Linked DNA regions of Homo sapiens. The protein of the gene in region 2 binds, or shares a complex with, the protein of the main gene of each other region. Each region holds a gene or a part of one and is shown on either strand. Other genes may lie near its edges. A codon is read from its position in the direction of its gene.

The links. The genes of interacting proteins can lie anywhere in the genome.
Region 1: the proteins of CPEB1 (region 2) and PIN1 are in contact, whole or in part, in an NMR structure (PDB 2N1O), measured with the Homo sapiens proteins. Residues at the interface, in NP_001352172.1 of Homo sapiens: Arg206, Ile207, Ser208, Pro209, Pro210, Leu211, Pro212, Phe213; in NP_006212.1 of Homo sapiens: Arg17 (codon at 2,940), Tyr23, Ser32, Gln33, Trp34, Glu35.

Annotation. Positions count from the first base shown.
Region 1 is NC_000019.10:9,830,684-9,838,332, reverse strand, and holds the start of PIN1 (peptidyl-prolyl cis-trans isomerase NIMA-interacting 1), read right to left. Parts: upstream 3,016-7,649; 5' UTR 2,989-3,015; coding exon 2,931-2,988; intron 1,511-2,930; exon of another isoform or gene 1,467-1,510; coding exon of another isoform or gene 1,458-1,466; intron 322-1,457; coding exon of another isoform or gene 258-321; intron 1-257. UniProt on the Homo sapiens protein: Peptidyl-prolyl cis/trans isomerase (PPIase) that binds to and isomerizes specific phosphorylated Ser/Thr-Pro (pSer/Thr-Pro) motifs.
Region 2 is NC_000015.10:82,542,697-82,546,389, reverse strand, and holds the end of CPEB1 (cytoplasmic polyadenylation element-binding protein 1), read left to right. Parts: intron 1-1,687; coding exon 1,688-1,798; 3' UTR 1,799-3,189; downstream 3,190-3,693.

The sequences.
Region 1 (7,649 bases), on a different chromosome or scaffold from region 2:
CTTCATTCAACAAATCCATGGTGTATCCACCATGTGCCACAGGCTCTCCAGACGTGGGCCAATGTGGCAGGATACAGTCCCTGCCCTTAGAGAGCTAACATTCTAGGTGAGAGCAGACAGGTGCTAAACAAGCAAATGAAACACAGGATAGTATCAATCCCTGATAACTTCAAGGAGGAAAATAACCCAGAGTGATGGAACAGAGGAAGCTGGGGGACAGGGAGTGACTCAAACCATGCACTCAGCAGCCAGGCCACCTGGATTCAAATCTGAATCTGGGTTCAAATGTGATATATCTTCCCTGGGCCTTGGTGTTCTCACCTGCAAAATGGAGATAACAGTTCCTACCTTAGGGTCATTGAAAGGACTAAATAATAATTTTTAAACATTTTTAAAAGGGCTAAGCACGGTGGCTCTCACCTGTAATCCCAGCACTTTGGGAGGCCAAGGTGGGGTGGATCACCTGAGGTCAGGAGTTCAAGACCAGCCTGGCCAACACAGTGAAACCCCATCTCTACTAAAAATATAAAAAATTAGCCCGGCATGGTGGCAGGCACCTGTAATCCCAGCTACTGGGGAGGCTGAAGCAGGAGAATCGCTTGAACCCGGGAGATGGAGGTTGCAGTGAGCTGAGATTGTGCCACTGCACTCCAGCCTGGGCAACAAGAGCAAAACTCCGTCACAAACAAACAAACAAACCAACATTAGCCGGGCGTTGTGGTGTATGTCTGTAATCCCAGCTACTCGGGAGGCTGAGGCAGGAGAATTGCTTGAATCTGGAAGGTGGAGGCTACAGTGAGCCAAGATCATGCCACTGCACTCCAGCCTGAGCGATAGAGTGAGACTCTTGTCTCAAAACAAAAACAAAAACAACAGGCTGGCTGGGCGCAGTGGCTCAGGCCTGTAATCCCAGCACTTTGGGAGGCTGAGGCAGGTGGATCACCTGAGGTTAGGAGCTCGAGACCAGCCTGGCCAACATGGTGAAACCTCGTCTCTACTAAAAATACAAAAATTAGCCAGACGTGGTGGCAGGCACCTGTAATCCCAGCTACTCGGGAGGCTGAGGCAGGAGAATCACTTGAACCCGGGAGGCAGAGGTTGCAGTGCGCCAAGATCATGCCACTGCACTCCAGCCTGGGTGACAGAGTGAGATTCTGTCTCAAAACAAACAAACAAACAATAAAAAATAAAAAATAAAAAATTAGCCATGGGTGGGTGGTACACGCCTGTGGTCTCAGCTACTTGAAAGGCTGAGGTGGGAGGATTGCTTAAGCCTGGGAGGCAGAGGCTGCACTGCAGCCTGAGCCACACAGTGAGACCATCTCCAAAAATAATAATAAGAAAGCACTAAATAAGCTCACACATCTACAAAATGCCTAGGACAGAAACTGGCACACATTAAGAGTGGGATAGCCTTTATTATCTCTATTGTATAGATGGCAAAACGGAGACCTCACCTTTTGCATCTCTGGGAATGGCAGCAGTGGGTAACGCTTCCTGAGTGTTTACTCTGTTCCAGGCACACACAGGGGAAGGCAGGAACTGTACTCAGGTACTTCACACCCGAAAGCTCTGCTCTTAGCTACTACACCGTGCATGGTGTTGCAGAGCTAGGAACCAGCATTACTGGTGGCCCGATGTTACCCAGGGAGTGAGGGGTATGAAGGAGTGAAGACTGTGAACAAGAAACTGGAAGTAAAGACCCTACTGGGTGCCACTCCAAAGGCTGACAGTTCGCCTGGGTGACATGGAGTGTCACCCATAAAGGAAGCCATCAGGGTTGAACTGAGCAGAAACAGCAGAAATGGGCCCAGAGCTGGGCAGAGCATCCGGTTTATGCTGGAGGTCCCAGCCACAGGCCAGGGCTAGAGCAGGGTGGGCGAGAGCGCGGGTTCCAGGTGCAAATGCAGCTGAGCTACTGACTCACTCTAAAACCTTGGCAATGGGCTCTAATCTCCCTGCACCTCAGTTTTCTCATCTGAAAAATGGGGAATAGAGAATAAGGAGATCAAACCTCATGGGGTTAATGAGGAGAGTCCATGTATCCAAACAGTTCACCAGAACCTGGCACTCAACCAAGGAGAATTATTATTGCAAATGCGATTGCTATGGGCTCTAGAGGCAGCAGAGTGACTCGGGACCTGCCCACAGATGCTGGGCCTGCTCCTCAGGAGTTTGCAGTGACACGGGGAGGGGGATTTGTAGGCAAACTGCCTAGGTCCTAATCCAACCCCCGGCCCCTGAAATGAATGATCTTGGACGAGTTCCTTCAGTTTTCTGACCTCAGTTTCCTTGCTGGTAAGGTGGAAGTAATAACTACCTGGCTCCCAGAGTTGCGGCAATTCAGAGAGAACTTAAAGCGCTTGACACAGAGAAAAACATGCCCTGTTACTGGCAATATTATCATTGTGGCTAACCCTTAAATCGGGCCTAAGCACAGGGGCCATCGTCTGGCAGAATGTCACGGGCGATGTCGCAGACTCAGCATTAGGTGTACACAGTAGGGGTGTTAGCAGGGGTAGGTTGTGGACCCGAGGCCGGGCAACACCCTACGCCCTTTGCAGGGTACTGGGGTGTCTCCCTCCCAGGGGTGCCCCCGGGCCCAGCAAGGTGCAGAGACGTCCCCCGGGGTGTCAGGTGCATTAGGCCGAGAGGTATCAGCCGGGCCGGCAGGGCCAGGGCCATCGCCCCGGACTCCCCGGACCCTCACCCGCCCAGCCCCCTGCCTCAGCTTCCTCAGGCTTCCCGGCGGCTCCTGAGGCTCGCAGTCCCCACAACAGGGCGGGCCGGGGCCGTTACCCCGGGGACGACGCGGAAGAGCCAGGACCCCATGGGAGGGAGGCAGCGCTGCCGCCGCGCCCAAGGGGCGAGCTCGAGCCCTGCTTACGCGGGCCCGCGCAGTCCCGCCCCAGCCCCGACCCCCGCGGCACCTGAGCTGCGGCTCATGCGCTTCTCCCAGCCGGGCGGCAGCTTCTCCTCGTCCGCCATCTTCCCTCCTGCCGCAGCGCCTGCTCCGCCTCAGCTGCGCCGCCTGTCGCCCGCGCCCGCCCGCCGCCGCTGCCTATTGGCTAGACGCGCTCTGCAACGGGGCCTGGCGGCGACGCCCATTGGGCTCCCTAACGGTCCGGATTGGCTTTCTGGCCTTCTATTGGGTAGAAGAAAGGCTGGGCGGACCCTCCCACGTTATCCCTGCGCCCCGCCCCCGGCCAGCCTCAGCCTGGCCCCGCCCACTCGCTCTCCTCGGCTCCTGAGTGGTCCGAAGCGACGCGGGCCCGCCCTTCTCAACGCCCTTTAGCGAGCGCCAAAAAACTCCCGACCCCTTCTTGGCGCGCGTCGCCGCAGAGCCCACCCAGGCGGGATAGAGCTTATGGATTGGCTAATGCCGCAGCAACTCCCGCCTGCCTGAGCTGTTCCCGGAGGTCCGCAAGCCCCCAGCCCTCCCATGCGGAAGAGTCTGGCTGGTGCAGAGGTAACGGCGGTCCAGGAGGTACTTGGGCGGGGCGGTGCTGCCTCTGCTGTTGCCATAGCAATGCAGTTGCCTTGGAGATGAGCACCTAAGTACCCGATGCTTAAATTTGGCTCCTCCATCCTCCCTCTTCCCACCTGTTTCCCACAGATGTCCAAAGCTAACCCAGCCTCTTTTATTTTTTGCAGGGCTCAACTTTTCCCTAGGCTCTGGACCCAAAGGCCTTCCACGTCCTTTGGAACCTGCTTACTTCCTTTATTCCCTCGCAGTCTGGCTCCTTCCTCCATCCTGGGTGACCAGTGGGTGCCGACATTGACATTCATATAAGAACACGGAGGAGGTGCAGGTGGGAGGAGATGGGCTCAGTTTTAGCCAACTTAAAATAGAGTCTGCAGAGCCCGTGGGACACAGGGGAGGTATTTGGGGACCCAGAGTTGGGGAACTGTGGGTAGATATGGGAGTTGAAGACACTGACAGCAAAGGGTGCAACTACAGTTCACCTAGCATAGAACCCTATGTGACCGTTAAAAAGAATGAGGCTCAGTGAAGTGAACTCATAGGGAAACCTGCCCACAACAAATTAGACGCAGGATGCAGTAGAAGGCTAAGAGAAGTCTGGAGCCAGACTTGGGTTTAAAGCCTGGGACTGACACTTGCTATGCGACCTTGAACTGATTACTTAACGTTACTCTGTACTTCGGTTTCCCAATCTGCAAAGCGGGGATAAGCAATTACATCCTTCTGTTTGATGTGAACATTAAATAAATTAATCCACATAAAGCACTCAAGCCAGGCTCGGTGGCTCACACCTGTAATCCCAGCACTTTGGAAGGCCGAGGTGGGTGGATAACCTGAAGTCAGGAGTTCGAGACCAGCCTGGCCAACATGGTGAAACCCTGTCTTTACTAAAAATACAAAAATTAGCCAGGCGTGATAGTGGGCACCTTTAATTCCAGCTACTCGGGTGGTTGAGACAGGAGAATTACTTGAACCTGGAAGGCGGAGGTTGCAGTGAGCCGAGATCGCACCACTGCACTCCAGCGTAGGTGACAGAGCGAGACTCCATCTCAAAAAACAAAAAAAGTTTAAGTTTTAATAGAACATTTTTTACAAGTATTAGCATAATATTAAAAAGATACTTTTTATAAAGATAATTTTAGACATGGGCAGTTACAAAAACAGTAGGGTTTTCATGTACCCTTCACCCAAACTTCCCTAATATTAGCGTCTTAAATAAACAATAGAACAGAATTCTCAACCAGTAGCGATTTTGTTTCCCAAGGGACATTTGGCAACATCTTGATACATTTTTGGTTGTTACAACACCTTCAGACATTTTGGAACAGGAGATACTACTGGCTACTGGCATTTAGTATTAGATGCCAAGGATGCTGCTAACATCCTTCAAGGCACAGCCCCCACCAAAAGAATTATCCAATCCAAGGGCTGAGTGTGGTGGCTCACACCTGTAATCCAGGGCTTTGGGAGCCCAAGGCAGGAGGATCGCTTGAGCCCAGAGTTGGGGACCAGCCTGGGCAACATGGCAAGACCCTATCTCTACAAAAATAATTCACTGGGTGTGGTGGCACGTGCCTGTAATCCCAGCTACTTGGGAGGCTGAGGTGGGAGGATCTCTTGAGTCTAGGAGTTAAGAGGCTGCAATTAGCCATAATCTTGCCACAGCACTCTAGCCTGGGTGACAGAGGGAGACTCTGTCTCAAAAAATAAATAAATAAATAAAAATAAAAGGCTGGGTGCGGTGGCTCACGCCTGTAATCCCACCACTTTGGGAGGCCAAGGTGGGTGGATCAAGAGGTCAGGAGTTCAAGACCAGCCTGGCCAAGATGGTGAAAACCCATCTCTACTAAAAATACGAAAATTAGGTGTGGTGGCGGGCGCATGTAATCCCAGCTACTCGGGAGGCTGAGGCGGAGAATTGCTTGAACCCCTGGAGTGGAGCTTTCAGTGAGCCAAGATCGTGCCACTGCACTCCAGCCTGTCTCAAAAAAAAAAAAAAAAAAAAAAAATCCAACCCAAAAAAGTCAACAATGCCAAAGCTTAGAAACCCTGCTATAATATAATTATCAACACTAAGAAACCAATATCAATATAATACTATTAACTAAACCACAAATTCCCCCCAATCCTGTTTTCCCACTAGTGTTTTTATGTTCCAGGATGGGTGCTCACTGTTCCTGGAGTGTCACTGTTTCTGGTCCCTCTAAGTGGATAGAGCAAGGAAATATACATATGTATACACACATCTATATGTATCAATATATCTGTTAAACGAAAACCATGAATTCAGACTGATGCCTCCAAATCCAGTCCTACAAGGTTCATTTTAAGCATTCCCATCTCCTGTTTTATTTGTAACTTCCTTCTCCACAGTGAGACACCCAGCTCTCATTATCTACAAGTTTACTTATTTGTTCAACCCTGTTTGTGTGTATTACATGGGCCCATGTGCCCACACCCACACACACAAAAGTAGTTTCAAAATTGCTAAATCATGGCTGGCCCAACGGCTCACACCTATAATCCCAGCACCTTGGGAGGCTGAGGCGGGCGGATCACTTGAGCTCAGGTGTTTGAGACCAGCCTGGCCAACATGGTGAAACCTTGTCTCTGCTGGAAATACAAAAAATTAGCCAGGTGTGGTGGCTCGTGCCTGTAGTCCCAGCTACTTGGGAGGCTGAGGCAGGAGAATCGCTTGAACCCGGGAGGCAGAGGTTGCAGTGAGCCGAGATTGCACCATTGCACTCTAGCCTGGGCAAAAAGAGCAAAACTCCATCTCAAAAAATAATAATAAAAAATAATAATTAAAAAAAAGCACAGAAAAGCAAACTATGGAATGTCATATAAATATTACGGGACATATAATTATCCCCGTATGATAAAAACTCTAGGTTATTCCAGAAAGTTTCTAGAGTCACTCAAATGTATTAATGCCCACCACTGGTGGGAGGAGTGGTATAAGAAATAAGAAATTCAGGGCCGGGCGCAGTGGCTGACACCTGTAATCCCAGCAATTTGGGAAGCTGAGGTGAACGGATCATGAAGTCAGGAAATCAAGACCATCATGGGTAACATGGTGAAACCCTGTCTCTACTAAAAAAAATTAGCTGGGTGTGGTGGCATGCACCTGTAATTCCAGCTACTCAGGAGGCTGAGGCAAAAAAATCACATGAACCCAGGAGGCGGGGTTTACAGTGAGCTGAGATCATGCCATTGCACTCCAGCCTGGGCAACAAGTGTGAAACTCCATCTCAAAAAAAAAATTTTTTTAATTTAAAAAATAAAACAGGACAGGAGCAAGGTTGACACAAAGAACTGTGGCCAGGGGAACAGAGGGACAGTTGGTCTCCTGTCTACTCACACCTAGAGGAAGAATACAGCAAATAACATTATGTGCCAGGCATCCTGCTATTCTAATTGCGTGGTCTCATTGAGATGTGGGTGCCACTGTAGTGCTCATTTTTAGAGGATGAAACTGAGGGTCGCAGAGGCTGAAATCCCACTGCTAAGGATCAATCAAAATTCAAATCTAGTCGGTCTGACTCTTGAGGCTGGGATCATGTAGCCACACTTATAGTGCCACACTGCCTCACTGTCTACTATCACGTTTTGTCTTGAAAAGAAGTGCTAGGGCCAGGCATGATGGCTTGTGCCTATAATCTCAGTACTTTGGGAGGCCAAGGCTGGAGGATCACCTGAGGTCAGGAGTTCAAGACTATTTTGGGCAACATAGGGGAGACCCTGTCTGTACAAAAAATTTCAAAATGCCAGACGCGGTGGCTCACGCCTGTAATCCCAGCACTTTGGGAGGCCGAGGAGGGTGGACCACTTGAGGTCAGCAGTTTGAGACCAGCCTGGCCAACATGGTGAAACCCCATCTCTACTAAAAATACAAAAATTAACTGGTGTCATGGGGCACGCCTGTAGTCCCAGTCTCCTGCCTCAGGTGAGGCAGGAGAATTGCTTGAACCCAGGAGGCAGAGGTTGCAGTGAGCTGAGATCGTGCCACTGCACTCCAGCCTGGGTGACAGAGCGAGACTCTGTCTCAAATAAAATAAATAATAATAATAATTTTAAAATTAGCTGGCGTGGTGGTACACACTGCCCAGCTACTTGGGAGGCTGATGCAGGAGGACTGTGTTGAGTCCAGTTCAGGGCTGCAGTG
Region 2 (3,693 bases):
GGCGCGGTGGTTCACACCTGTAATCCCAGCACTTTGGGATGCCAAGGTGGGCGGATCAGGAGGACCAGCCTGGCCAACATGGTGAAACCCCGTCTCTATTAAAAATACAACAATTAGCCTGGCGTGGTGGCAGGCGCCTGTAATCCCAGCTACTTGGGAGGCTGAGGCAGGCGAATAGCTTGAACCCAGGAGGCGGAGGTTGCAGTGAGTCGAGATCACGCCACTGCACTTCAGCCTGGGACAGAGCGAGACTCCGTGTCAAAAAAAAAAAATTGTTATGCCAAGTTCATGACATTGAATGTTGGAGTTCTGAGGTACCCTGTGGTGTCTGAGAGCATAGAGGAGGCAGCAGTAATGTTTGCTGAAGGTCAGACCGGGACAGACATACTTTAGATAGCTTGATCCAGAACTCTTAAGAAAATATGTTGAATTGAGTCTTTATACTTTGGTCTTTTTCTTGCCTGGGATATTGCTATGCAGTATGCCACTATTGCTGAGAGGTGGTTTTGTAGATGATGGAAGCCTGGCTGGGTGTGGTCAGCAGCACGTGGGAGCCAGGCTCAGCTGCCTAACCCTGAAGCCTTCTAAGCTGATTTTTCTGTAAAGGAGGATGCCTCGTCCTCCTTTACATCTGAACTTCTGGACGACTTTGATATTTGCATCTGGGCTGTACCCACAGGTGTCAGCGACAGGCAGAAAGCAGCGAGGTGGCTTTCTATTGAATGTTCCTGGGTGATGGAATGTGGATCTGGATGTGTTTGGCAGTGCTTCTCAAACCTTAATTACAGACACATCACCTGAGGATCTTAGATTCTGATTCAGTGGGTTTGGGGCGGACCCTGAGATTCCATGTGTCCAACAAGTATCCAAGTGGTGTCAATGCTGCTAGTCAGTATCATCCTTTGACAGGTGTTAGGGGAAGTTTGGGACCTCTTAGGACACCAGCAGCAGTCCTTCCATGCTTAGTGGGTGCTTTTTAAATTTTGTTTAAAAATTTGTTGCAGTGATGCCATTGATCAGATTTGGAGTCTCTGAATATGGTTAAACTGAGGCTCTCAAGTGAGAGTTTGAAGTTAAGTTTGAATTGTTAGTTAAAGCCTGAGACCAAGTATCTCTCTGATCAGCCTCATCTACGAGGCTTTTATGGATCTGGATCTTTCACAGATAATCTCCATAGTCAGATAATTGCTCAGAGATTAGTGGCTTGCCTGACGTTACACAGCAACCAAGAGATGGGACTAGACTGAGAAACCCAGTCACCTCTCCTCACTTAATGGGAAGAAAGCAGGATGTTGCCTAGCATTAGAATTTTTAGTCAGTATCCTTATACATTCTCCACGTTAGCAGCCATGTGATACAACTACTCTGTAGGAGGTGAGAAGGGCAGGGGAATAGGAGAGCAGCTGTCATGGTTAGAGGGGATAAGAGAAACTAGCATGGTCTCTGCACACACTACGAGCCCAACATGTTTAAGTAAGGGGACCTGTAACAAGGATGGTGGGTTTGCCATAGTTAATCAGGCTTCTGTGTTGGGGTGAGAGCATTCCTAGGGACCATTTCTTCTAACCCACAGAGGCCATCGGGAGTCTCCCACCCTTCTCCAAACAGAACAAGCAGCTCGTGCAACAGCTCCTGTGTCTGGTGCTGACACAGGCATGGCATCCTCCTTTTTGTTCCCCCAACCCAGGTCTGCTTCAAATACTTCTGCCGGAGCTGCTGGCACTGGCGGCACAGCATGGAGGGCCTGCGCCACCACAGCCCCCTGATGCGGAACCAGAAGAACCGAGATTCCAGCTAGAGGAGCTGGCCTTGCCCAGTGGCCTGTGGCGCCCAAAGCTGGCAGGTCAGGCAAGCAGCCTGCACCACCCTGCCACTGGCGACCAGGGAGCTGGCTTCCCAAGGACAAGGGAAAATTGTAGTCACCTTTGCACTTGCTGAATCTGTCTTTGTTTCTGCACTAATTAATGCACATTGAGTTTTGTCAGGTTTTGTTTTCAGGGGGTGTACCAAGGGCAAGGACCCTCTGGCTTACCCTCCAAGCGACTCTGTAGTTTTCCCAGATTTTAGTTCCTCATTTTGCAGATGAAAAGCGGGGAAAAAAAAAAAAAAAAAAAAAACTACGTGTCCAGAAGGTATTGAGGTATTGACACGGATGCCTACACCTAGGTTTATTTATTAAAAGCGCTTTTTTACATTCCTTGCAATACTGATGGTGATGATGCGCAGGTCTCATTGGTTTCATTCTTGCAGTTGCCATACAGTGCCTTTCCATTTATTTAACCCCCACCTGAACGGCATAAACTGAGTGTTCAGCTGGTGTTTTTTACTGTAAACAATAAGGAGACTTTGCTCTTCATTTAAACCAAAATCATATTTCATATTTTACGCTCGAGGGTTTTTACCGGTTCCTTTTTACACTCCTTAAAACAGTTTTTAAGTCGTTTGGAACAAGATATTTTTTCTTTCCTGGCAGCTTTTAACATTATAGCAAATTTGTGTCTGGGGGACTGCTGGTCACTGTTTCTCACAGTTGCAAATCAAGGCATTTGCAACCAAGAAAAAAAAAATTTTTTGTTTTATTTGAAACTGGACCGGATAAACGGTGTTTGAGCGGCTGCTGTATATAGTTTTAAATGGTTTATTGCACCTCCTTAAGTTGCACTTATGTGGGGGGGTGGGGTTGATAGAAGTTTTTAATCACAAAGTCACAGGACTTTTTTCTTTTGTAACTGAGCTAAAAAGGGCTGCTTTTCGGTGGGGGCAGATGAAGGCTCACAGGAGCCCTTTCTCTTAGAGGGGGCAAGTACCCTTCCCTTATATCTTTAATTTGAGGAATGTATGAGATAACAGTTGCAGTTGACTGAAATGCCACTGGAATTTGAAAACTTGACTTTTTTTTCTTTCCTTTTTTTTTTTTTTTTTTTTTTTAAAAAGAAACAAAAAACCCACAAAAACTACTTGCCCCTCCTAGGGAAGCTGTGTGCCAAAGAACCAGTGTCATAACCCCTCCCTCCTGCTGAGCTGACGTTGCATTGTTGCATATCCCAGCTACTCTGTGGGTTTTGTGAAGCTGTGTGTGAAGTCTCTACCTCATTGTAGTATATGCAGGCAAGACTGCACTCTCCTACAGATGTGTGGAGTAAGCTGTGGTGTAGTTTTTTTGGCACATAATAAACACGTTGCAGCAGAGTTCTGGTTTTGTCTCTGTGTTTGAGGTCTGGGAGCAAGGGGCTAACGGGAGGGAGTAAGGGGGTAATGGCACAGCCACAGCTTGTTTCCTTGGATTTCTGTGATGGAGATCCTGGCCCAGGATAATGGTGGGACCATGTGGGAGACCTGCCCTGTGAGTACTTCTTGGTCCCTTCCATCGTCAAATATACTTTGGAGATGCTTCTCCAGTGGATGGGTGCTTCTAGCCCAAATATAAAAAGTCCTCATATCTTAGCTTCTCGGGGGTCCTCACAGCCTCCAGGCCCAGCTTAGAGAATGCTGGAGGCACAGCTGCTCACGTGCCAGCAGAAGCCACTTGTTCTCAGCTTCTCCTGGAAGTCTTGGCCTATTACTTCTTCGGAGGCTGCTCATCCTCTTGGACCCACCTATGATGATGCAGTTCCTTTCTGAGAGGGAGTGATTGGGTTTTTGCTGTTCAGAGAGCCCTATCAACGGAACTTTCTCAGAGCTCACAGGATTTCT